Linked DNA regions of Homo sapiens: region 1 is linked to region 2. The links come from fine-mapping of genetic effects on gene expression. A gene starts in region 2. The other region holds a variant in brackets. All regions are shown on one strand. Distances are from middle to middle.

Region 1 (12,422 bases), 27 kb after region 2:
AGTTTGAGATCAGCCTGGCCAACATGATGAAACCCCGTCTCTACTAAAAATACAAAAATTTGCTTGGCGTGGTGGCAGGCACCTGTAGTCCCAGCTACCTGGGAGGCTGAGGCAAGAGAATCGCTTGAACCAGGAGGTGGAGGTTGCAGTTAGCAGAGATTGTGCCATTGCACCACTCCAGCCTGGGTGACAGAGCGAGACTCTGTCTCAAAAAAAAGAAAGAAAGTCGGGTGGGGATCCCCCATCTAGAGTCCAGCCTCCTGGGGTTGGGCTGTTCAGCTCCAGGAAGCCCCTGGTGTGGCTAAAAGGTTTGGGCAGCCCCTGAAGCTGCCTTGGGATCAGACTCTCATTGGTGCTCCTCAGGTCTAGGATTTTCTTCCCAACTCAGAGGGGAGAAGGGAAATGACGTTGTTTATTGTGTCTGGAGCTGTGGGGCCTTTACCTAAGCCCTGTCAGGAAGGTTGTGTTTTCGCCAGCTGAGATGCTGGGAGATGCACCCAGGATGGCTGGGTGCCTGCGGGTTGGAGGGGAGAAAGCAGAGCGAAGGGAAGAGGTGTTAGACAAGCAAAGGAGCCCTGGCTCTTAATTTTCACCCCTAAGTCCTTGGTTTTGGCCTGGGACTGTAAAACCCCTCACAGAGCAGTAGGGGTTCTTAGCCCCAGGGTCAGACATGGAGTGGTCCCTGGAACCCTCAGTGCCTTACCCCAAGTGGCTAACCTCCTTCCTGAACAGGCAGATGTGTCATGCTGGGCAGCACCTCTCCCTCCCGACACCTGCATGGTGACTCAAACTCCCAGGTAAAGCCCAACCCGATGGGAAATGACTCAGCATTGAAGTTCTCTTCCCCTCATTGGGGAGGGAGCAGGAAGCCCGAAGCTGGGCCTGACGCTCCCCTTTGATTTCTCAAGGTAGTGACGGGGGAAGGGGAGCTTTGCAGGGGAGTTTTGCCTGGCCAACATGGTGAAACCCTGTCTCTACTAAAAATATAAACACTTGCTGGGCGTGGTGGCGGGCGCCTGTAATCCCAGCTACTCAGGAGGCTGAGGCAGGAGAATCACTTGACCCAGGAGGTGGAGGTTGCAATGAGCCGAGATTGTGCCATTGCACCACTCCAGCCTGGGTGACAGAGTGAGACTCCCTCTCAAAAAGAAGAAAGTTGGGGTGGGGTGTCCCCCTAGAGCATCTTCTTCCTACAGCTTCTGCTTTTACACACACACTCTCTCTCTCTCTGTGTGTGTGTATGTGTAGACAGTCTAGGACACTTGAGGGTGGGCGTGCTGGGATCTACAAGACTTCCCCCTTGCCTTCATCTCTGTTGCCTGCCACTTCCTACCCTGCTGCCCTTTAGGGAGAGTTGAAAGTTTATTTCCTGCCCCAGTGAATTATTATTATTTTTGACTAGCGAAGGTGGGATTTGGGCAATAGGGAGGACTTTTGCTGATTGCCCAGACTGGAGACCTGACAGTGGGGTAGTGCTTAGGAGAGTCCAGTCGCTAGATCACGAAAGCTCCATTTAAAATGCATAGTTGGGGCTAGGCATGGTGGCTCACGCCTGTAATCCCAGGATTCTGGGAGGCCTAGGCGATGGATCCCTTGAGGCCAGGAGTTAGAGACCAGCCTGGCCAACATGGCAAAACCCCGTCTCTACTAAAAACACAAAAATTAGCTGGGCGTGGTGGCATGCACCTGTAATCCCAGCTACTCAGGAGGCTGAGGCACGAGAATCACTTGAACTTAAGAGGCAGAGTTTGCAGGGAGCTGAGATCGTACCACTGCACTCCGGCCTGGGTGACAGAGTGAGACTCCATCTCAAATAAATAAATAAAAATAAAAATAAAATGCACAGTTGGACTGTCTCTGGAAGGTTGCGGGCGAACCAGAAATGTAGTGACCTCCAGGAAGGAAAATTGCTACTACTCTTTTCCACATATCCTTTGATCACTTTTAAATTGTGTTCCATTTGCAAGTACTACCTACTCAAATGGAAAGAATAAAACATGGTTACCTGGGAAGGAAGATAAAAAGAGAGTCCTTTTCCATATTAGTGCTAAGCACTTCGTACAGTTCGTCCTTAACTGGACAAGAATTACGGAATCTCTATAGGATGATGTCAGGAGCTGTGCTGGATTCTGGAGACTCAGCGTCTACAAAACAGCATCCCTTGCCTCACAGCGATCCCAGTTGGGAGAGCAATTCAGACAGACAGCAAGGCAATGAACACGCAGTGTCAGAAGCGTGATGATGAGAAGTGCAGACACCAGGGAATTGCAAAGGAGGCTCCTCTGCCCAGACCTGGGGAGAAAAGACCTTTCTGGACCCAGTGATATCCAAGCTGAGACCAGGAGTTAGTCGGAGGGGAAGAGAGCTCCAGGCACAGGGAACAGCACAACATACGCAAAGACTGCAGGAGCCGTATAAAACTTGACTGCTTCCTTGGAACTGCAAGCAGTCAACATGTCTGGAGTATTGAGTTTGGAGAGGGTGTGTGGAAGAATGAAGCCACAGAGGTAAGGTCAGATCATAGAGTATTTTATAAGCTAATGTAAGGTCAGTTAGTGGTCACCTTGAACAGGTGTGAAGCCCTGGGGGACAGGGGTTAATAATCTACCTGTATTGGAATGCTGTTTTGCCAAGCACTGTAATCTTTTTATGCATTAGCTCATTTAACACTTCCAAAAAGCGCCTGAGATTTTTACCATCATTTTTTTCTTTTCTTTTTTCTTTTTGTTTTTTGTTTTTGTTGTTGTTGTTGTTGTTTAGACGAAGTCTGACTCTGTAGCCCAGGCTGGCGTGCAGTGGCGTTATCTCGGCTCACAACAACCTCTGCCTCCCGGGTTCAAGCGATTCTCCTGCCTCAGCCTCCAGAGCAGCTGGGATTATAGGTGCGTGCCACTGCACCCGGCTAATGTTTTGTTTATTTAGTAGAGACAGGGTTTCGCCATGTTGGCCAGGCTAGTCTTGAACTCCCGACCTCAGGTAATCCACCTGCCTCGGCCTCCCAAAGTGCTAGGATTACAGGCGTGAGCCACCGTGCTTGGCCTACTATCATTTTTTTCTATTTAATGTTTTGTAAGTAAGTGAGGAAACTGAGGCTCAAAGAGGTTAAATTTAGTAGAAAATCTTACAGGGTCACAAATGGAATAATATAAATGTCTAGGGGCACAGCTAGCCCAGGGAGAGTGGGGATCTCACCCAGACATGCACTGTCTGCCATGCGACCTCCCCATTCAGATAGAGCAGTGGTTGTTGTCAATAAGGGTGGTGATTTTGCCCTCAGGAGACATTTGAAAGTGTCTGGAAACATTTTTGGTTGTCACAACTGGGAAGATGCTACTGGCATCTCATAGGTAACTAACATCCTACAATGTAGGATGCTCAAAATATCAACGTCACAACTGAGAAATCCTAGAGAATAAGTTGTAGAGGGCAGGCACAGAGAGGTAGTCAAGGGGTGAGCGTGAGAATTTTGGAAGGGAGTTTTTTCTTTTTTCTTTCTTTTTTTTTTTGAGATGGGGTCTTGCCTGCTTGTTGCCCAGGCTGGAGTGCAGTGCTGCAATCATAGCTCACTGCAGCCTTGAACTCCTGGGCTGGAGCAATCATCCCATGTCAGCCTCTTGAGTAGCTGACAGGTGTGTGCCACCATGCCTGGCTAATTTTTATATTTTTAATAGAGACAACAGGGTCTCACTATGTTGCCCAGGCTGGTCTCAAACTCCTAGGCTCAAGTGATCTACCCACCTTGGCCTCCCAAAAAGAGTGCTGGGATTACAGGTGTGAGCTGCCATGCCCGGGCAGGAAGAGACATTTTTTAAAGGCCTTGTAAATACTGTACTTATAGCAGCAAGAGACAGGAGTCAGCTCCAGTAAAGCCTGGGATGGACACAGCACATCCTTTCCTGACGTTCCTGCTGCTTCCAAGCACCAGCCTTAAGAGCCCAGAGGAAACTGCTAATGAATTTCCCTAGAGTTACCCAGAACTAATTCTGAGGGGTTTCCTGCCACCTCTCAGGTCCGGGACTGTTAAGGGGTACCAGCCAAGATGTCCAACTCCTCACCAGCATATTCTGCCAGACCAGGGCACCCTGCTCTGATCATGCTGAGACATGGGACCCAAGTCCAACACGTTTGGTCAATGCATGATTTCAAAGAATTGTAACATCAGCAGCAGAGAAACTGGAGACCCAAAGAATGGATTCAAATGCTTGTTGCCTGAATCTGCTCTTCTCACAAGTCCCTCAATATTGTACCTGAATATAATACCTTCTCCTGCATCAAGAGAGGACATTAGGTGGGTCCCAGCTGCCTCTTCAGGGATTTAACAGGCTAACCAGGAGCTCTCACTTGTCTTTCTACCTGCAAACTACAGAATGGGTGCAGATCTTTCCAGGAAGCTTATAAAAGCTCACAGGGTGAGGCGAAAGTTGGCTTAGTCTCAGAGATTCATTGTTGTTGGGAACGTAGAGCCCTGAGCGCTTTAAGTCCTGAAAATCTTCTAGTTTCTGATCTTTAGCTCAACTTTTAACTGTTTTCCTCCTGATTTTTGTTTGGCTTTCTGATTTGATTCTCTGGTTTGACATATGTGTCTGTCTTAATTAGGTTTTCCAGCAGGTCATGGCCCTGTCCCGGGCCCATGTAAACCATCAAAGGCTTGCCTCAGTCATCCCTATACCAGCTTCTCACCTTGCCCAGTCTTAGGGCCTGGGATCTAAGAGCCCTCTGGAAGATCTACCCTTTTTCTACATCTGAAAACTCACTATTAGAGAGTTAAAGTCTTCGAAACATTCCATGTTTCCCAAGGGTCCACATGGCAATTTTGTGATATATTTATAGGTAGCAAGTGGAACAAAGGGGTTTGTAGCCAAATAAATTTGGAGAATGTTATGTGAGGTTAGTTTCTTGTCTACAACAAGGCTTAATATGCTTTGAACAGGTTAAACATCCATACAATGAACTTAGTCAGCTCACAATCCAGTACCCAAAACCCTTGGAACCAGATATATTTGGATTTCAGAATATTTCAGGTTTTAATAAGGTAAATGGTGAATATGCTATTTATTCCACTATTTATTCCATTGCACCCAGAAGAGCTGGCAGGCCCTGTAATCAAGCACATACTTCTGCAGCAAAACATATGCATCTTCATACTAAGTAGGCTAAGTAAAAAATCTGAAAAGCCACAACATCATTTTAGGTCAGGTTTTACCCCTAAGTCTTGTTTTGTTTTTTGAGACGGAGTCTTGCTCTGTTGCCCAGGCTGGAGTGCAGTGGTGTGATCTCGGCTCACTGCAACCTTCACCTCCTGGGTTCAAGCGATTCTCCTGTTTCAGCCCCCCTAGTGACTGGGATTATAGACACACACCACCACACTGGGCTAATTTTTGTATTTTTAGTAGACATGGCATTTCACTATGTTGGCCAGGCTGGTCTCAAACTTCTGACCTCAAGTGATCCATCCACATCGGCCTCCCAAAGTACTGGGATTACAGGCATGAGCCATAGCACCCAGCCTGTTATTTTTTAAAACTTAGTTTTTAGCACTTTTTGGACTTCAACCTGATGGATACAGGATGGGGCCGTGTAGATGGTGTTCCCAACATAGATGATCTCAGAACTCCCTCTTCCAGGAGCATCTAGCAGGACAGGTATTTCATGGACTCCAAGGATACCCTCAGCTGTTAGTCTATAACACAGGAGAGTGAACACAGTCGGTCATTCTCACTTTAGCCTTATCCTCTCCCACACCAACTAGATGAGGTGAGGATTCTGACAGCCAAACAAGGAGGAGAAGCTGGAGAGCCTGTGCATGTGTGCAGATGTGGTTGGGGAGTCATGGTTCAGCTGTCAGCTTCTGGTGGAAAAGGGATACCAAAAAGAGCGGCATAGTGGACATCCAGGTTATGGTGGTTTTCTTCTGTGTACACTTCTGTGTTTTTCACATTTCCTTTAGAAATGACGAGCTTTTTCTCCCTTATTGCTGTTTTCTACTGCAGGGAGTTGCTGCTCTTAGTGTTGCAGTGTGGGGAGGTAGGATGGGGCTGACGCAGAGCCTGAGGGCAAGGCAGGGTTCCTGGGAAGATGGATTCCTGTGATTCTGGCCTTGTGCCTCAGCCAGAGCTGAGGTGGGGTGGGGTGTATGCCTAAGGCCAGGGTCCCCTGGGGAAGGAGGAGGATGTTGGATTTCTGGTGGATTTCCAGGAAGACTTCCTGCTCTGACAAAAACAACACAAACACA[G/A]GAAGAGGCTCTGGGGCCTAAGGAGAGGGGATAATGGACCAAGGTGGAGACTTTTGGGGTGGAGGCTGATACAGAGAGCAGCCCAGGAACAGAGAAGCTGCCTCCTCGCTGTCCAACTGTGTTCCCCAAGCCAGCTGAGAGTCTTTCTCTACTGTGGTGGCAAGTTGGGAACTGGAGGAAGAGGCCCAGTAACTTTGGACTCCCTGGCTTCTTCTCCACTTTTCATTGAGTATAATATTTCTTGGTGGCCTGGACCATGAGGATGGGGGTGGAGAGTAGGCAGTGGACTGCGGGGGGGCATTTGGCTAAGGCCTCAGATTATGTAGGGCCTCAGATACAGACCTTAAATGTGTGGGGTCACACACCTGTCAGAGCTACATTCAGCCTCACTGTGCGGGATCAGGTGAAGACATGCATCCTAAACTTGCTACCATTACCAGCCCTATGGTGTGCTGTAAACTCATTATCTTCATATGGCTTGTGAATTGCTCTGTTATGTTGCATTATATATGTATATATACACATATGTGTGTATGGGACTCTGTGTGTGTGTTTGTTGTAAACCAAAAATAAAAATCTAAGGCTACCCCCACCATCTGAAGAGACTCCCTCCTCTTGGCCAGGCCACTCCAAAGTTAACCTGAACAACTGTTTTCAGGCCATGAGGGGAAGTGGGGGTTGGACCTGCCTCATAATGCCCTCCTGCCTTTTGGAATTCAGGAAAAGCTGACCAGCATTAACAACAACATAGACCTTAAGTCTGATAAATAACCTTTACAATCTATTCTCTCCTGAAGCCTGCTATCTGGAGGCTTCATTTGCATGATAAAACTTTGGTCTCCATAACCTCTTATCATAACCTAGATATTTCATTCTAGTGATAACTCTTTTAACCATTGCCAATGAGAATTTTGTTTGTTTGTTTGAGATGGAGTCTTGAGTGCAGGCTGGAATGCAGTGGTGCAATCTTGGCTCACTGCAACCTCCGCCTCCCAGCTTCAAATGATTCTCCTGCCTCAGCCTCCTGAGTAGCTAGGATTACAGGTGCCTGCCACTACGCCCGGCTAATTTTTGTATTTTTTAGTAGAGACAGGGTTTTGCCATGTTGGCCAGGCTGGTCTCAAACTCCTGACCTCAGATGATCTGCCCACCTCAGCCTACCGAAGTGCTGGGATTACAGGCATGAGCCACTGCACCCGGCCTAGAAAATTTTTTAATCTACCTATAATCTTGAAGGCTCTGTACCCCATTCCCCATTTTGAGTTGTCCCCCCTTTCTGGATCTAACCAATGTACATCTTAAATGTGTTGACTGATGTCTCATGCCTCCCTAAAATGTATAAAACCAAGCTGTGCCCCTACCACCTTGGGCACATGTTCTCAGGGTCTCCTGAGGGCTGTATCACAAGCTATGGTCACCCATATTTGGCTCAGAATAAATCTCTTCAAATATTTTACACAGTTTGACTCTTTTCGTCAACTCTCTCTCTCTCTCTGCGTGTGTGTGTGTGTGTGTGTGTGTGTGTGTGTGCCACCACACCCGGCCAACATTTTTAAAAATAATAATAAATAAAAAAAATAATAAAATAATAAAACGGGGCCAGGCGCGGTGGCTCACGCCTGTAATCCCAGCAATTTGGGAGGCGGACGCAGGAAGATCGCTTAAGCCCAGGAGTTCGAGACCAGCCTAGGCAACAAAGTGAGACTTTCTCTCTACAAAAAATACAAAATACAGCTTTGGGCATTTTTTCTTTTTTTGAGATAGGGCCTGGCTTTGTCACCCAGGCTGGAGTGCAGTGGGTCATCACCACTCACTGCAGCCTGGACCTACTGGGCTGAAGTGATCCTCCCACCTCAGCCTCCCAAGTAGCTGAGACTACAGGCATGCGCCACCATGCCCAGCTAATTTTTGTATTTTTTGTGGAGATGGTGTCTCATTTTGTTGCCCAGGTTGGTCTCGAACCCCCGAACTCAAGTGATCCTCCTGCCTCAGCCTCCCCAAGTGCTGAGATTATAGGCGTGAGCCACCATGCCTGGCTTTCTTTTACTCATTTATTTATTTATTTGGGTGTGGGGGTCACAGCTTTGACTTGCTAAGTATACACATTTGAGATATACCACACTTTCAGTAACTTTGTTTTGGCATTAAAAATCTGTATCTATCTATATCTAGAGCTTTGAAAGGGAAGTAATAAACATTTTTTTTTTTTTTGAGACAGAGTCTTGCTCTGTCGCCCAGGCTGGAGTGCAGTGGCTAGATCTGGGCTCACTGCAAGCTCCGCCTTCTGGGTTCACGCCATTCTCCTGCCTCAGCCTCCCGAGTAGCTGGAACTACAGGTGCTCGCCACCACGCCCGGCTAATTTTCTTTGTATTTTTTAGTAGATACGAGGTTTCACCATGTTAGCCAGGATGGTCTCGATCTTCTGACCTCGTGATCCGCCCGCCTCGGCCTCCCAAAGTGCTGGGATTACAGGCGTGAGCCACTGCGCCCGGCCAACATTTTTTAAAATAATAAAACGGGGCCAGGTGCGGTGGCTCACGCCTGTAATCCCAGCACTTTGGGAGGCCGACGCGGGAAGATTGCTTGAGCCCAGGAGTTTGAGACCAGCCTGGGCAACAAAGTGAGACTTTGTCTCTACAAAAAATACAAAATAAAAATAAAACGGAAGGAGTCTGGCTCAGTCTTCACCTCTGAGAAGGGTAAGGAGAGCTCCAAACCGGAGCCTGAGAGCGCCTGTCCCCACTGGGCACTTGGACTGAGCGTCAAGAACCGAGGGCGGCCCGTGGGAGTCTTCCTTCCGCGGCCCGGGCGCGGTTCTGGCTTCATCTGCATCGCTCTGGCGGCCCCTGCTGGGCTGGCGGTGAAAGGCGACCCGGGATGGGGCGGTGCCCCGAGCTCTGGCTGGAGTAGGAGACACTGCGTGGGGGTGGCCTGGTGGGCAGCACGAAGACGTTGGGCTCAAGGGGACTCAAAGAAGACAAGCTCTGTTTACCGCACGGTTGTTTATTGCCACGCTGTGGGCTAAGGGATTGTTCTGAAAGTGCTGCTGAGGAAGGGGGCAAGTCCAGGTCTGAGGGCAAGACTGCTGAGCCCAGGGAGGGAAATGTCCGATTGCTGGGTGGGAATTCATGACCCTATTTCTTCTCTTCTCCTTCCCGGCTCCACGTGGTGACCATAAAGGGCCTGGCCTCTCTGAGCAGGGCAGCCATCCTCCTCCGTGCAGCTGGTTGGGGTCATGAACTCTGATTCAGAAAGAGGGAGCAGGATTTCTTGCTAAGACCTCCTGGCCGAAGTCAAATTCTCTGACCTGCTTTTACTGAAAAGCCTTGTTCTGAGGGCATACAGGAGCCTCAATCAACCATTTAATAAAAATGCTTCCTCACCGTCCTCATGGTCTTTATCCCTCTGGGGTGGAAGGTAGGATTCAGGGCCCCAAACCTTTCCCTGAGCATACTGGTTACCCAGTGGGTCCTAGTGAGTATTTGAGATAAAAATAGCTTATGGGAGCCTGTGGCTTAGTGCAGCTGCCATGGCTAGTGCCTTGACCAAAGGTGGTATCAGGTGATTTGGAAAATAGAGCCTTTTGGGTCTGGCAAAGGCTCACTTCAAATAGACAGAGGTTTTAGTCACTGTGAGTCAAGCAGTTTATGCCACCACAGCTTGCTGGCGCCCCTTCACCCATTCTCATCCAATGTATTGCAAATGGAAACTTTAAACTGGAAAAAGCAGCTTTTTATATATGACCACTTTTTTTTAAATTCTTTTTTGAGACAGGGTCTTCCTCTGTCACCCAGTCTGGAGTGCCGTGGTACCATCTCGGCTCACTTCAACCTCCGCCTCCTGGGCACAGGTGATCCTCCCACCTCAGCCTCCCGAGTAGCTGGGATTACAGGTGTGTGCCACCACGCCTGGCTAATATTTGCTACTTTTAGCAGAGGTGGAGTTTCACCATGTTGCCCAGGCTGGTCCTGAACTCCTGGGCTCAAGTGATTTACCCACCTCAGCCTCCCAAAGTGCTGGGATTATAGGTGTGAGCCACCACTCCCAGCCATAGCCACTTCTTTATATATGGTTCTTCATATTTGTGTGTGAAGTTTTGAGTCCTTAGGTCGCTAGTGGTAGCAGCCTTCCCAGATTCTGTCATCTTTCTCTTGTTTTGTACATGACCCAGAGCCTATTAATAGGGAACCGTGGCCAAGCTAAGCCCTTAGGCTCACGAAGCAGGTTCAGAGGTCCCTGAGTCCTACCCTCCTCCACTCTCAGGCCCGGCATTGGCCTGACAGGTTGACTGCCCAGACCCTTGCCATGGCTGTGGATTCAGCCACCAGAGGGTGGTCAGTTTTACTGGTGGACAATAAAGGGGAATATCCGATTTGTAGTAATTGAAAAAGCCCATTTTCAGAGCAGTCTATGTCTGGGAATCAGGTTTGCTTTGACTCGGGGAGAAACTAGATTGTTTTGAAAAATGAATTTTAGGACCGGGCGCAGTGGCTCACGCCTGTAATCCTAGCACTTTGGGAGGCTGAGGTAGGTGGTTCACGAGGTCAGGTGTTCAAGACCAGCCTGACCAACATGGTGAAACCCCATCTCTACTAAAAATACAAAAATTAGGCGGGTGTGGTGGTGCGCGCCTGTAATCCCAGGTACTTGGGAGGCTGAGGCAGGAGAATCACTTGAACCCGGGAGTCAGAGGTTGCAGTGAGCCGAGATCGCACCACTGCACTCCAGCCTGGGCAACACAGCAAGACTCTGTCTCAAAAAGAAAAATGAATTTTAGTCTTGCAAACTGAAGAGCAGTGGAAAATGAAAGGTAACTGAGGGACATATATTTTAATCTTTTATTGTAAAACATGGCATAGAAAAGAAAACCACACAAATCAAATGTATAGCTTAATTTATTATTATAAGGTAAAACCACCCAGATTAAGAAATAAGGCCAGGCGTGGTGGCTCATGGCTCTAATCCCAGCACTTTGGGAAGCCGAGGCAGGTGGATCACTTGAGTCCAGGAGTTTGAGACCAGCCTGGGAAACATGGCGAAACCCCATCTCTACTAAAAATATAAAAAACTAGCCAAGCGTGGTGGTGTGCACCTGTAGTCCCAGCTACTCAGGAGGCTGAGGTAGGAGAATCATCTGAGCTCGGGAGGTTGAGGCCGTGGTGAGCCGAGATTGTGCCATTGCACTCCAGCTTGGGCAACTGGAGTGAGATCCTGTCTCAAAGAAGAAAAAAATAAAAAAATTTTCCAGCCTCCCCAGAAAACCTTCTGTGTGCACTGTTCAAATCACAACCCTCCCTCCTCCCACAAACCATCACTATCCTGAGTAATACAGCAATCAAAATGGATATTTTGGAGGACAGCTTAGACATATAAACCCAAACTAACTACTTTTATTTTATTTTATTTTTTAGACTGAGTCTCATTCTGTCACCCAGGCTGGAGTGTGGTGGTCCAATCTCAACTCACTGCAACCTCCATCTCCCGGGTTCAAGCAATTCTCCTGCCTCAGCCTGCCAAAGTAGCTGGGATTACAGGTGTGTGCCACCATGCCTGGCTAATTTTTGTACTTTTAGTAGAGATGGGGTTTCACCATGTTGGCCAGGCTGGTCTCGAATTCCTGACCTCAGGAGATCTCCCTGCCTCAGCCTCCCAAAGTGCTGGGATTACAGGTGTGAGCCACCACACTGGCCCCAAACACTACTTTCCATAAATGGGTTAGAAAAATGGGGAATAGCTTAATTGTTCTTAGATTAGGGAGGGTGATTGGGACTCAAGAGATTTAGCAGGAGAGGCTGGATCTCAGCAAATGAATTATATTAATTTCCTGATAGTGAGCTCAAACCCCCTCCAAGCAGATTTCTTCCATTCAGAAGAAGAGATTTGCAATGTCTAAAGCTACACAAGATTAATATCTGGAATGCTCAAGAAACTCCTGGGGATCAACAAGAAAAAGGCCAGAAATCCAATGGAAAAGTGAGCAAAGAATAAAGTCAGAAATCACAGAAGGGAAATTAGAATGGCTGGCAAGTGTGTGAAGAGATGCCCAACCTTGGCTGGGCACAGTGGCTCACACCTGTAATCCCAGCATTTTGGGAGGCTGAGGCAGGATTGCTTGAGCCCAGGACATCCAGACCAGCCTCAACTACATAACAAGACCCCGTGTCTACAAAATAAATAAATAAATAAATA
Region 2 (12,422 bases):
TGGGTTTGATTTGCCAGGTATTGGCTGTGTGATCTTGGACAAGTTATTTAACCTCTCAGTGCCTCAGTTTCTTTATCCATAAAGTGGGGATGATATTGCATCTCCTTCACTGAGGATCAAATGAAATAATGCATACAGAACTGTTAGTCCAGTGCCTGCTAAATAAAAGCCATTGTCAATAAATAGATGCTATTGTTATTTCCCCATAGAAGAACCCTAGAGTATCCCCATCATATAAATATGGGTGAATAGTTGTGGAAAAGGAAGACTGGCTATGGGTGGTTCCAGGAGTCCACACAGATATATAAGCACAGCCAGAAGGCCCAGTGATCACTTCTCTGACTAGACCCAGCAGACACAACTGTGGCTGGCTACATTAGACAAATGGAAGAACACTTTAATCAGTCTGGTTCAAGGTGGGCAGGCAGGAATCAAGGCAGACATGACTTGGATGGACAGCTGGAGCTATCCTGGGATGTCACCATGGGTTAGAAGTAGGAAGATTCCCAGTTAGAAGGACAAGCACCTCCACTAGCCTGATTGAATTTGATACTGCCTCAGAGATAGTTCTCCAAACCTGGAGTCAACCAGGTCTGCATGTGAGTCTTGGTGCTTCCATTTCCCTGGAGTTTAACCTTGTGGAAATTGCTTAAGCCCAGTGAACCTTCATTTTCTCATCCATAAAATGGTGACATTAATAGTACCTTCCTTAAAGGTGTTAAGATGTAAAAAGAAAATGAATGTAATGCAAATAAAAGTTGGTTATTATTATTATTATCTATCTTTAACAAGGGATAAATTGTAAGATTGTATTGTCCCCTTGGAGACAACAGACTTCTTTTTTATTTTTATTTTTTGAGACAGAGTCTCATTGCCCAGGCTGGAGTGCAGTGGTGTGATCAAGGTTCATCGCCACCTCAACCTCCCAAGCTCAAGCAATCCTCCCACCTCAGCCTCCTGAGTAGTTGGGACCACAGGTGTGTGCCACCACTTCTGGCTAATTTTTAAAAAATATATTATAGAGACGAGGTCTCACTATGTTGCCCAAACTGGTCTGATACTCCTGGGCTCAAGCCATCCTCCTGCCTCGGCCTCCCAAAATGTTGGGATTACAGGTGTGAGCCACTGCATCTGGCACTCTTCCTTTTCTTTAGTCCCTGCCACATTCCCCACCATCACTGTCTCCAGAGTAAACAAAGAACGCCCATGTAGATTACCCACATACTGTTCCTCCCATTCACTCTGCACACACACCTGCCTCCAGGGATCCCTGCTCCCTCTTCCCACAGATATTCATACATTTAGTCCTCTAGCAGCCTTCTCAAAGGAGACTGTCCCCTCTGCAGGACGTGGCTGCCTCCAAACCCTCCTCAGAGGCTCAGCAAACCAGAGAAAAGAAGCACCTTCTGCAGGAGGGTGGGCAAGATAGATTGAGGATGGGGATGGATGGTGATCGGGAAAAGGGAGGAGCTGAGGATTCAGAATAAGAAAGGAGAGGGTGGAAATGTGTCATGAAGTTCCTCAAAATCTGTGAATCCTGAATCTCATCATTTTTAGTGAATGAACTCAGATGATTCACTTCCCTTCATTAGCCTCTATTTTCCTCTCTGTGTAATGGAAGGGGAAGTGCTTGCTTTGAAGACAGAGATGCATATAGAATCCAGCACATAGAATCCAGCTTGGGAGAGCCATGAGCATGTGGAATTAGACATCATATGGGTTATGAATATTATGTTAGTTTTCTTCTGAATAGGATTTTTTCAGTATTTCAGCTTCTGGCTGAACATATATCCCTAAATATTATTGATTTTTTGGCAGTCTTCAGCAAGCCCACCATTTGCTGGTTAGTCATCCCAGTCCTTTGTTCCTGGGCATGCCCCTTTGCTTCTAGTTAAGCATCTATTGCCACCCAACATGGTAACCAGAACTCTGAGCAGAAGTTTTAGGACCAGGGCCTAACTTTGGTTCCTGGTGAGGGGCTCAGAATCCAGAAGGTCTGGTAAGCCATGACCAACACTACTTTTTTTTTTTTTTTAATGGAGTCTCGCTTTGTCACCCAGGCTGGAGTGCAGTGGCCCGATCTCGGCTCACTGCACCCTCTGCCTCCCGGGTTCAAGCGAGTCTTCTGCCTCAGCCTCCTGAGGAGCTGGGATTACAGGCGTGTGACACCACACTGGCTAATGTTTGTATTTTTAGTAGAGACGGGGTTTCACCATGTTGGCCAGGCCAGTCTCGAACTCCTGACCTCAAGTGATCCAGCCGCCTCAGCATCCCAAAGTGCTGGGATTACAGGCGTGAGCCACCACACCTGGCAAACTACTTTAAAGCAGTAAGTTCCTGACTTAGGTAATAACTGGGTTTGGGTCAGGGAGGGACAAAGAAAAATTTGGCCAAGACTCATGACATACATGCAGAAGTCTGAGCTGAGTGGCCTGGGTAGGCCTAGGAAGCAGGCCAGAGCTGGTAAGGCAGAAAAAGAGTGAGGAAGGTTAGGGGGGTCATAGCCTGATGCTGGAGGGACCAGCTTTAGTTCCCCTTTCATGGTGCTACTGACGACAGTGTAACCTCAGGGTTCAGCCCCTGGGCTCTTTGCTTTCCATGAGTAAGGAAGCAAGAATGCTGCCTCCCTCCACCCCTTCCACAGCCTGCTGGGGGCCTGCAGCTCCAGCAATCCCCCTATCATGTTACATGCCCAGAAGCGGCTTTCAGTGCCTGCCGTTGCCAGCTGGCTTCACCCTTCACACTAGACACTCAGGAAGAAGGGGTCCTTAGACTCAAGGAAGCTATGTGACCAGCATTCCGTACCTCCTTCCCAGAACTGTTGAAGAGTCCGTCTGCCCCATGTGTAGGAGGGAAAGAGGCGCTTCAGGCCACACAGGGACACAGACAAGAGGGAGAGGGAGTAAGCATAGGCAATGTGGGAGTGAACAGCACATGCAGCTGTGGGTCCAGCTGCCTGATTGCTGGGAACTGCTGGCCAAGGATACAGCATCCCCATTGGCCTGGAATCCTGGAATGGACTCCAGCCTGACTTGGTCTTCTGAGTCAATCCAGCCACAGTCAAAAAGGGGAGGCAGGCACTCGATGTAGGAATTACAGTTTACACAGTTCCTCTTCCTATCTCTAGCATCCAGAACTGCGCCCAGCACACAGTAGGTCCATGATAAATATGGAATGAATGAATACTTTTACATGCAAGCATGATCTCAGCCAATCTGCAGAGTGAGGCACAGGCTGGACAGGTGGATCACCTGAGGTCAGGGGTTCAAGACCAGCCTGGACAACATGGTGAAACCCCATCTCTACTAAAAATATAAAATTAGACCGGCATGGTGGCAGACACCTGTAATCCCAGCTACTTGGGAGGCTGAGGCAGGAGAATTGCTTGAACCCAGAAGGTGGAGGGTGCAGAGAGCCAAGATTGTACCATTGCACTCCAGCCTGGGTGACAAGAGCGAGACTCCACGTCAAAAAAAAAAAAAAAAAAAAAAAGAGTTAAGCAACTTGCCTAAGATCATTCAACTTTGATGTAGCAGACTGAAGGCTAGGCACTGTGGTCTTTCTATAGTGCCATGCTGAGCATTCTTCATATACAACACAGAATTGCATCCTATGACTCCATGGGAACTTCCTTTTGGGTCAGAAAATAGTCCTTAGGGGCTGAGTTTCCTGGACTTAGTCTCAGGGCCAGGTTTGGATACCCTGCCCCTCCCTGCGCATCTGGCATCTGCCTTCCCTTTTATGAGAATCTCCTGGAAAGGGCTTCTCCAGCAGTCTGTGTTGCCACATCTGACTCAGGAGCTCTGTACCCTTGAGACACAGAGGCAGGGGTTGGTGGCTTCACCCTAGGAGTCAGGAAAAGAATGAAATCATACACATTCAGTTCCTTATTCTCTTACCCTCAACAGAAATTTCAGACAGCCTAGACCACAGAGACAGTTCTTGGAATTCAGGCAAACAACTAATTTGTATTACAGCGGGTGCAACTTAAGAGCTCAGAGTCCATAGTCCGAGCAGTCTTTCTGGAAGGAGGTCTCCAAAGTCAGGAGGAGGGCTCCCCTGAGCTGGATCATCTTAGCTCACTGGCCCCTCCCTTCACAGCGTTCTGTCTTTTATGGAGACAGTGAGGTATAGCGCATAGGAACAAGGATCAGAAGACGCTGGGTTTTAGTGCTGGCTTTGCTGCTCATCAACTGTGTATCTTCTCTCCACTTCATTTTCCATATCTGCAAAATGGGAACAACAATACCAGTCTATATCATAAGGCAGTTATGAGTTTAAAGAGAAATGGTTTACATTAATGTGCCTTGAAGCACAAGACAGAAATACAATATAAAAAATATGGCTGGGGCCGGGCACGGTGGCTCACGCCTGTAATCCCAGCACTTTGGGAGGCCGAGGTGGGCGGATCACAAGGTCAGGAGATCGAGACCATCCTGGCTAACACGGTGAAACCCCATCTCTACTAAAAATACAAAAAATTAGCCGGGTGTGGTGGCAGGCGCCTGTAGTCCCAGCTAGTCGGTAGGCTGAGGCAGGAGAATGGCGTGAACCCGGGAGGCGGAGCTTGCAGTGAGCCGAGATTGTGCCACTGCACTCCAGCCTGGGTGACAGACCGAGACTCCGTCTCAAAAAAAAAAAAAAAAAAATATGGCTGGGCGTGGTGGCTCATGCCTGTAATCCCAGCACTTTGGAAGGATGAGGTGGGAGGACCCCTTGAACCCAGAAGCCCAGCAAAACCTTGTCTTTAAAAAAAAAAAAGAACTGTGCACAAAGATTTCAGAGAGTGCTAAAGATTAGCGCATGGATAAGGAAGTTCTGTGAAGAGTTGAAGTGCTAGGTGAAGAGGTGGCACGGGGGAGGAGGGGGCGGAAGGGGAGAAAGGGTGTCACGCTTCATAACGGTCTCCAAACCTCTTTGTCCAGGAGGAAATGAAGTCATCTGCTCTCAGCAATCAGCATGACAGCCTCCAGCCAAGTAATCTGGAGTCATGAGAGCTGCTAGGGGAGCAACATGAATCATGACGGTCCCTGGGAATTTCCTGATAACTAACCTGGGAGTTTCGGGGTAAGTCCTCAGGCTGCAGCATCTCTGTTTATGTTCTGGTCACGTTTATTTACAATTAATGGGTTCTCAAATCCAAACAAAACTGACCACAGTCTTCTAGAGGAAGTAGCAAGGTTGGCTCTGAAGCCTATAGCATCGCTGACTCAGTCTGTCCCCTGGAAGGCTGGCAGCTCAGCAAGCACAGAAGTCTCTCCAGAAGACAGTGGGTCACCTGCCTCCCAAAAGCTGAAAGGCTAACTTGTACTTTCCCCAGCAGGCAGCTGGCACCCTGAGCCCTCGGCTGGGGCAGAGCAAAGGAGCCTTCCTCCTTCCTACCTTCCTGGCACTCTCCCTGCCTTCCTTCTGTCACTCTCAGGTGGACCCAGACCCAAGGTCCAGATTTGCAAGGCAGGAAAATGCTGCAGGCCTAGGCTGGGAAAGGGCCCAAAGCCGCTAGTGGATTGCTGGGACTCAGCCTCCTCCTTCCCACTAAGAGAGCGAGTCCTACTGGGTTCAAAATGACCCCAAGCCCTGGTTCCTGACACTAGGGGAAAGAGATGGGGGTGACAGAATCACAGAATCCCTGCTATGTTCCTCCAAGTGTGCCCAGAGATGCGTGTGTGTGTGTGTGTGTATACACAAATGTCTGCTTATCCTCAGGCAGGAAGGGTGGATGCAGTCATTTACACATGGTCTGTTTTTCTGGAGGACAATTTTATTTGATAAACAATTGTTTCTATCTGAATAGAATAAACAAGGCTCTATGATGAAGTAAAACACTAAATACACATGCATTAAAAAATGCATAATTATCTTTTTGGAATGGGCTATACAGAGATGTGCTTTTTAAAATGTTAAGAGTGTAAAAGGACAAACAGTGAAAAATAAATCTTCCTCTTATTTTGTCCTCCAGTCTCCCAATTCCTCTACTCAGAGGTGAGAACAGAACTTCCACACCCTCCAGAACCTCCACAGTTAGAACTGTCTACATGTTTCCATTGTCTTTACTTTTATTCTTGCCTGCACAAATAAATGAATTGCTCATTATGGAAACTTCCCAAAAGACCCGTTAACACTTCAATAGGAAGCACCAACAGTTTATGCCCTAGGACTTTGTTCCCACAATCCTGTAACATCATATCACGACACCTAACCCAATCCTTATCAAGCCCTGTCAAAAACGGACTTTAAACCAAGCTGCAAATTTTCAGTAATCTGGCCTTGCCTTTCCCCCTCTGATAGCACCATCAAACAAACCCCCTTACTGCCGAAAGCAATAAGCCCGGCTTTGTTCCATCCACTGGTTGTGTTGGTGATATCTGGGGACTGCCACTGAACAGACGCACAGAGGGAGCCCCTACAGGCAGGGGTTTTTCTGTCTGTGCTTCTGGGAGAGTATGTCTCGTACATTTGTCGCGTTGATGAAGACTTCACAGCTCCATCAGCTGCGGGCAAGGGGGTCTGAGGCAGTCTTAGGCAAGTTGGGGCCCAGCGGGGAGAAGTTGCAGAAGAACTGATTAGAGGACCCCAGGAGGCTTCAGAGCTGGGCGAGGTAGAGAGTCTCCTGTGCGCCTTCTCTCCTCTCTGCAATTCGGGGACTCCTTGCACTGGGGCAGGCCCCCGGCCAGGTGCATGGGAGGAAGCACGGAGAATTTACAAGCCTCTCGATTCCTCAGTCCAGACGCTGTTGGGTCCCCTCCGCTGGAGATCGCGCTTCCCCCAAATCTTTGTGAGCGTTGCGGAAGCACGCGGGGTCCGGGTCGCTGAGCGCTGCAAGACAGGGGAGGGAGCCGGGCGGGAGAGGGAGGGGCGGCGCCGGGGCGGGCCCTGATATAGAGCAGGCGCCGCGGGTCGCAGCACAGTGCGGAGACCGCAGCCCCGGAGCCCGGGCCAGGGTCCACCTGTCCCCGCAGCGCCGGCTCGCGCCCTCCTGCCGCAGCCACCGGTGAGTGCCGCGGTCCTGAGATCCCCGGGCCGGATGCGCGGCGGCCCCAGCTCCCGAGCGTCTGCCTCCCCCGCCCTGGGCTGCCCGGGCTCCCTGGGCTCCCCGGCGGCTGCACGGAGTCAAGGCGCCCCGTCCCGGGCGTCCCCCGCGGGTGCCGATCCAGGCTGCCCGGAGTCCGGAGCCCAGAGAGGAGAGAGACAGCTGGGGAGCCTGGTCACCGCGGGCATCTCCCCTGCGCTGCAGTCGCCCGCCTGGCCTGCCTTCCCGTTCCTCCGCCTCTTGCCCTGACTTCTCCTTCCTTTGCAGAGCCGCCGTCTAGCGCCCCGACCTCGCCACCATGAGAGCCCTGCTGGCGCGCCTGCTTCTCTGCGTCCTGGTCGTGAGCGACTCCAAAGTGAGTGCGCTCTTGCTTTGACTGATGCTGCCCAAGGACCTCTGATCAGCACCAGGGGAGAGGAGGGGCTGCTCAGGGAGCTGGGGTCCTCCGGATTCCATCCACAGCAGGGCCAGACTCTCCCCAGGAAATGGGACAGGGTGGCAGCGGAGGCTTGAGAACCACGGGGGTTGGCACTGGCTGGCAAGGGAGGAAGAGGCCGCCGGGACTGCCCCAGCCTGCGGGCATCTGGTAGATGAAGCTTGCTTGGGTCAATCCATTTCTCCTGGCTGGAAACCCATGGTCTTCCATTTGAGAACTAGATACGAACAGGGTGAGGCGAGAGGGAGAGGGAAGAGTGGGTTTTGGGATTGGGGCCAGTTTACCCTCACCCTGGAGTCCCTGGAGCATGGGACCTTTGATGAAGCCTCCTCCCGAATCTCTTCCAGGGCAGCAATGAACTTCATCAAGTTCCATGTGAGTATCCACCCCTACAACAGTTGGCTGCACAGACAAGTTGGGAAGGCTTCAGGGGACATCCCCTCCCTGCCCTCTGCTGCAGGGCTGCGCCACCCCTTACCACTTCCACTCCCCCTCGCTTACCCCACCTTTGTTCTCTCCAGCGAACTGTGACTGTCTAAATGGAGGAACATGTGTGTCCAACAAGTACTTCTCCAACATTCACTGGTGCAACTGCCCAAAGAAATTCGGAGGGCAGCACTGTGAAATAGGTATGGGGATCTCCACTGCAACTGGGAGAGAAATTTGGGGACAGGGAGGGATGGGTGGGAGGCAAGAGCAGGCAGGAGTTAGGAGCTGGAGGTAGGGTGGGTGACATCTTCATCCCTATGTGACAAGCATAAACACACACACACGCTCACGAAACAGTGGCCACACAAATGTGAGGTGGGGTTGGAAGGAGACCCTGTCCAGTCTTCTGGCAGGTCTGAAACGACATCTTTAAAATGTCCGTTGGCAGCCGGGCATGGTGGCTCACGCTTGTAATCCCAGCATTTTGAGAGGTCAAGGTGAGTGGATCATTTGAGGTCAGGAGTTCAAGACCAGCCTGGACAACATGGTGTAACCCTGCCTCTACTAAAAATGCAAAAATCAGCCTGGCATGGTAGTGGATGCCTGTAGTCCCAGCTACTTGGGAGGCTGAGGCAGGAGAATTGCTTGAACCTGGGAGGCAGAGATCTCAGTGAGCTGAGATCACACCACTGCACTCCAACTGGGCGACAGAGCAAGACTCCATCTCAAAAAAAAAAAATAAAAGTTAGTTGGAATGTTCTTCTCTTTCTCATATTCTCTCATCCTCCTGTCCCCTTGTAGATAAGTCAAAAACCTGCTATGAGGGGAATGGTCACTTTTACCGAGGAAAGGCCAGCACTGACACCATGGGCCGGCCCTGCCTGCCCTGGAACTCTGCCACTGTCCTTCAGCAAACGTACCATGCCCACAGATCTGATGCTCTTCAGCTGGGCCTGGGGAAACATAATTACTGCAGGTGAGGTGGGGGCAACAAGGACCAAAAGCCCTCCCTACAGCTTCCCAGAAACCTTGTTACCATCCCCTTCTCCCAGAGGGCTGGCCATAGCACAAGAGAAGTGCGGCCTCTGGTTGAGTCTTCCCTGAGGGGAGGAGGCAGGGAAGGCCCTCTGGGTTGGAATGACATCCCCTATCTTTCTGTGTTGCCAGGAACCCAGACAACCGGAGGCGACCCTGGTGCTATGTGCAGGTGGGCCTAAAGCTGCTTGTCCAAGAGTGCATGGTGCATGACTGCGCAGATGGTGAGCATCACTGACCTGCTGATGACAGTGGGGTGGAAGGGGACAAACTTACATGTCCCCTTATTCCATCACAGGAGGACTGAGGAGGTGGGGGGTGCCCGAGAGGGATGCTTTCTCCTACCTGCCTCCCTAAGACATCCCTCTGTTTGTCCTCCAGGAAAAAAGCCCTCCTCTCCTCCAGAAGAATTAAAATTTCAGTGTGGCCAAAAGACTCTGAGGCCCCGCTTTAAGATTATTGGGGGAGAATTCACCACCATCGAGAACCAGCCCTGGTTTGCGGCCATCTACAGGAGGCACCGGGGGGGCTCTGTCACCTACGTGTGTGGAGGCAGCCTCATCAGCCCTTGCTGGGTGATCAGCGCCACACACTGCTTCATGTACGGCCCTGGGTTTCTCCTCTTCGACTCTTCTGCCCCACCCCAAGCACATCCCTTTCTCCTTCCCAGCAAAGTGTTCCGCCTCATTTCTCCCTCATCTGCCCCTGTCCATGCAGCCCATGGCCTTGGGGACAAGTCGTGCTTTGAGGCCTCTAGGGAGGGAAGGAAGAAGTGGCAGATTTCATGGGACTAAGCTGTTTGATGGGTATCTTCTCCCACAGTGATTACCCAAAGAAGGAGGACTACATCGTCTACCTGGGTCGCTCAAGGCTTAACTCCAACACGCAAGGGGAGATGAAGTTTGAGGTGGAAAACCTCATCCTACACAAGGACTACAGCGCTGACACGCTTGCTCACCACAACGACATTGGTGAGGGGGAACCCCGCGACTACTGTGGCCATAATGGCTTGGGGAGAGTGGGACCCAGGGAGAGACTGGAGCTGAGGTTGAAGCTGCCCGGTGGGGCAGGGGTGGGGCGAGGGACCTTGAAGCCTCGATATACATGACAAAGGGAGTGGCAGGGAAGAGTTCCATGAAGTCTGAGGGGCCTGGTGCTCCTCTGGAGAGACCCTGAATTTCCCCAACAAGTAGCCTCTTGCGAGTGGAAACAGCCCTGTGGGTATATGGCTTGGGCTGGGAAGGCCCTGTTTATATGAATTAGAAAAAGACACACCTTCCTTTGTGGGATGCAGCCTCTGTCTGTGCTAGGATATAGAACTTGGAGAATGGAGCCTTGGGATGGATTCCAGCCTAACTACCTCAGCTGGGAGTTTTTGCAGAAACGACCTGTACAGCTGTATGCAGTGGCTCTGGCCATCCAAGCCTTTTTCAACACCTGGAACAAAGCCCTTGGGGCATGGGGCAGGGGAGGTTTCCAGGTGATAAGCGACCAGCAGACCTCCCTGGATGACTGACCTAGGGATAGGCATAGCTACTTCCTCGGCACTTGGAGGGGACAGATGGGGACCGCCTAACCAGTAGTGATCTTTCTCCTCTGACCCTCTGTCCTCCCCCAGCCTTGCTGAAGATCCGTTCCAAGGAGGGCAGGTGTGCGCAGCCATCCCGGACTATACAGACCATCTGCCTGCCCTCGATGTATAACGATCCCCAGTTTGGCACAAGCTGTGAGATCACTGGCTTTGGAAAAGAGAATTCTAGTAAGTGACAATTGCGACTGACTTAGAAGGTCCTGAGGAGTGTTTTGACCTGAAAATGAGCCCAGCGTGATCAAGGGAAGACTGCAGAGTTAGAGGTGGGAGCACTGAGGCGGTGGCAGATGGGTCCAGGGATGGATGAAGAGTGTTGTTTAGGGAGCGATGGGCTGCAAAGGTAAATAGATGGTAGGGGCTATAGGTGGAGTAAAGGCTCAGATTTGCATGGAAGAGAATAAGGGCCTTCCCTGGTAGAGATACTTTATGGTTCCCCTCTCTGGCAGACTCCCAGTGGACAGATAAATCTTGATGCAAACGCCTCCCTGTTTTCTCCACCTAGCCGACTATCTCTATCCGGAGCAGCTGAAAATGACTGTTGTGAAGCTGATTTCCCACCGGGAGTGTCAGCAGCCCCACTACTACGGCTCTGAAGTCACCACCAAAATGCTGTGTGCTGCTGACCCACAGTGGAAAACAGATTCCTGCCAGGTGAGTGTTCCAAGCATCTCTCTCCACCTCTTCCATATCTCCCCAGAGCTCCTGGGCTTGTTCCAGCCAGCTTAAGGGTGTCTCTCTCTAGCCAAAGCCCTAAGTAGCCAGAATCAGGAGCTCAGGTCTTTGAGGGTTTAAACCAGTCCTTATGTGTTTGCCAGACATTACCAAAAAAATCCCAGCTCTGCGCTAGTCACTTCAGACTGGGGGCACGAGATCCTAGAAAGAGGAAACAGTAAAAGACAATGTAACTCAGTGCCCAGGGTGTGTTGTGAACTATAAATGATCAGGTGTTCAGGAGAGGGAGGTGAGTGCCAACCTGAGGGTCAGGGAGGGGAGGCTTTAAAGGAAATGTGACTTGATAGGCATTTGAAGAGGCAGAGGGAAGAAAGGAAGGTGTTTCAGTTGAAAGATACAAAACTGAGAAGGAGGCTGGCATATTCCGGGTGGGGAGGAGAACTAGGGTCTGGGAGTGTGGATGGAATAGTGGCAGATGACAGGGCTTTTAAAGCCAAGCAGGGGATTTTAAACTTGATGTGGTAGAAAATGGGGCTGCGTCAGGCACAGTGGCTCATGCCTGTAATCCCAGCACTTTGGGAGGCCGAGGTGGATGGATCACTTGAGGCCAGGAGTTTGAGACCGGCCTGGCCAACATGGTGAAACCCTGTGTCTACTAAAAATGCAAAAAAAAATTAGCCAGGTGTGGTGGTGCCTGCCTGTAATCCCAGCTAATCAGGAGGCTGAGACATGGGAATCGCTTGAGCACAGGAGGCAAGTTTGCAGTGAGCTGAGATCACGTCATTGCACGCCAGCCTGGGCGACAGAGCGAGATTCTGTCCTCCCCCCGAAAAAAAGAAAGAAAATGGGAAGTCGCTAAGGACTTTGACTGGGAAACTCTTCCCTCTCTCTGGTATGGTTGGGTGATGGGATCAGAAATCCCCTCCTCACTTCTCTAGGGCTCATCTTTTGTATCTTTGGCGTCACAGGGAGACTCAGGGGGACCCCTCGTCTGTTCCCTCCAAGGCCGCATGACTTTGACTGGAATTGTGAGCTGGGGCCGTGGATGTGCCCTGAAGGACAAGCCAGGCGTCTACACGAGAGTCTCACACTTCTTACCCTGGATCCGCAGTCACACCAAGGAAGAGAATGGCCTGGCCCTCTGAGGGTCCCCAGGGAGGAAACGGGCACCACCCGCTTTCTTGCTGGTTGTCATTTTTGCAGTAGAGTCATCTCCATCAGCTGTAAGA

What was found.
Region 1: its variant is fine-mapped to the expression of PLAU in left ventricle (GTEx, PIP 0.97).

Annotation. Positions count from the first base shown.
Region 1 is chr10:73,931,702-73,944,123 of GRCh38, forward strand. No RefSeq gene overlaps it. Among named protein-coding and RNA genes, the nearest start is that of C10orf55, 15 kb to the left of the region's middle. RefSeq lists enhancers at 250-1,449, 684-733, 9,004-9,163 and silencers at 314-373, 494-543. The variant G/A (reference allele first, on the strand shown) is at 6,233.
Region 2 is chr10:73,904,228-73,916,649 of GRCh38, forward strand. It overlaps PLAU (plasminogen activator, urokinase), which reads left to right and starts at 6,905. Exons shown (of 11, transcript NM_002658.6): 1 at 6,905-6,991; 2 at 7,298-7,385; 3 at 7,814-7,841; 4 at 7,988-8,095; 5 at 8,697-8,871; 6 at 9,063-9,154; 7 at 9,312-9,531; 8 at 9,753-9,901; 9 at 10,549-10,689; 10 at 11,024-11,172; 11 at 12,162-12,422. The coding sequence starts at 7,329. The coding sequence ends at 12,338. It overlaps C10orf55 (chromosome 10 putative open reading frame 55), which reads right to left. Exons shown (of 5, transcript NR_160938.1): 2 at 12,292-12,414; 3 at 8,816-8,848; 4 at 7,973-8,057; 5 at 5,742-7,868. RefSeq lists enhancers at 4,381-5,580, 4,936-5,886, 5,136-5,185, 8,804-10,003, 9,614-10,167 and a silencer at 6,852-7,451.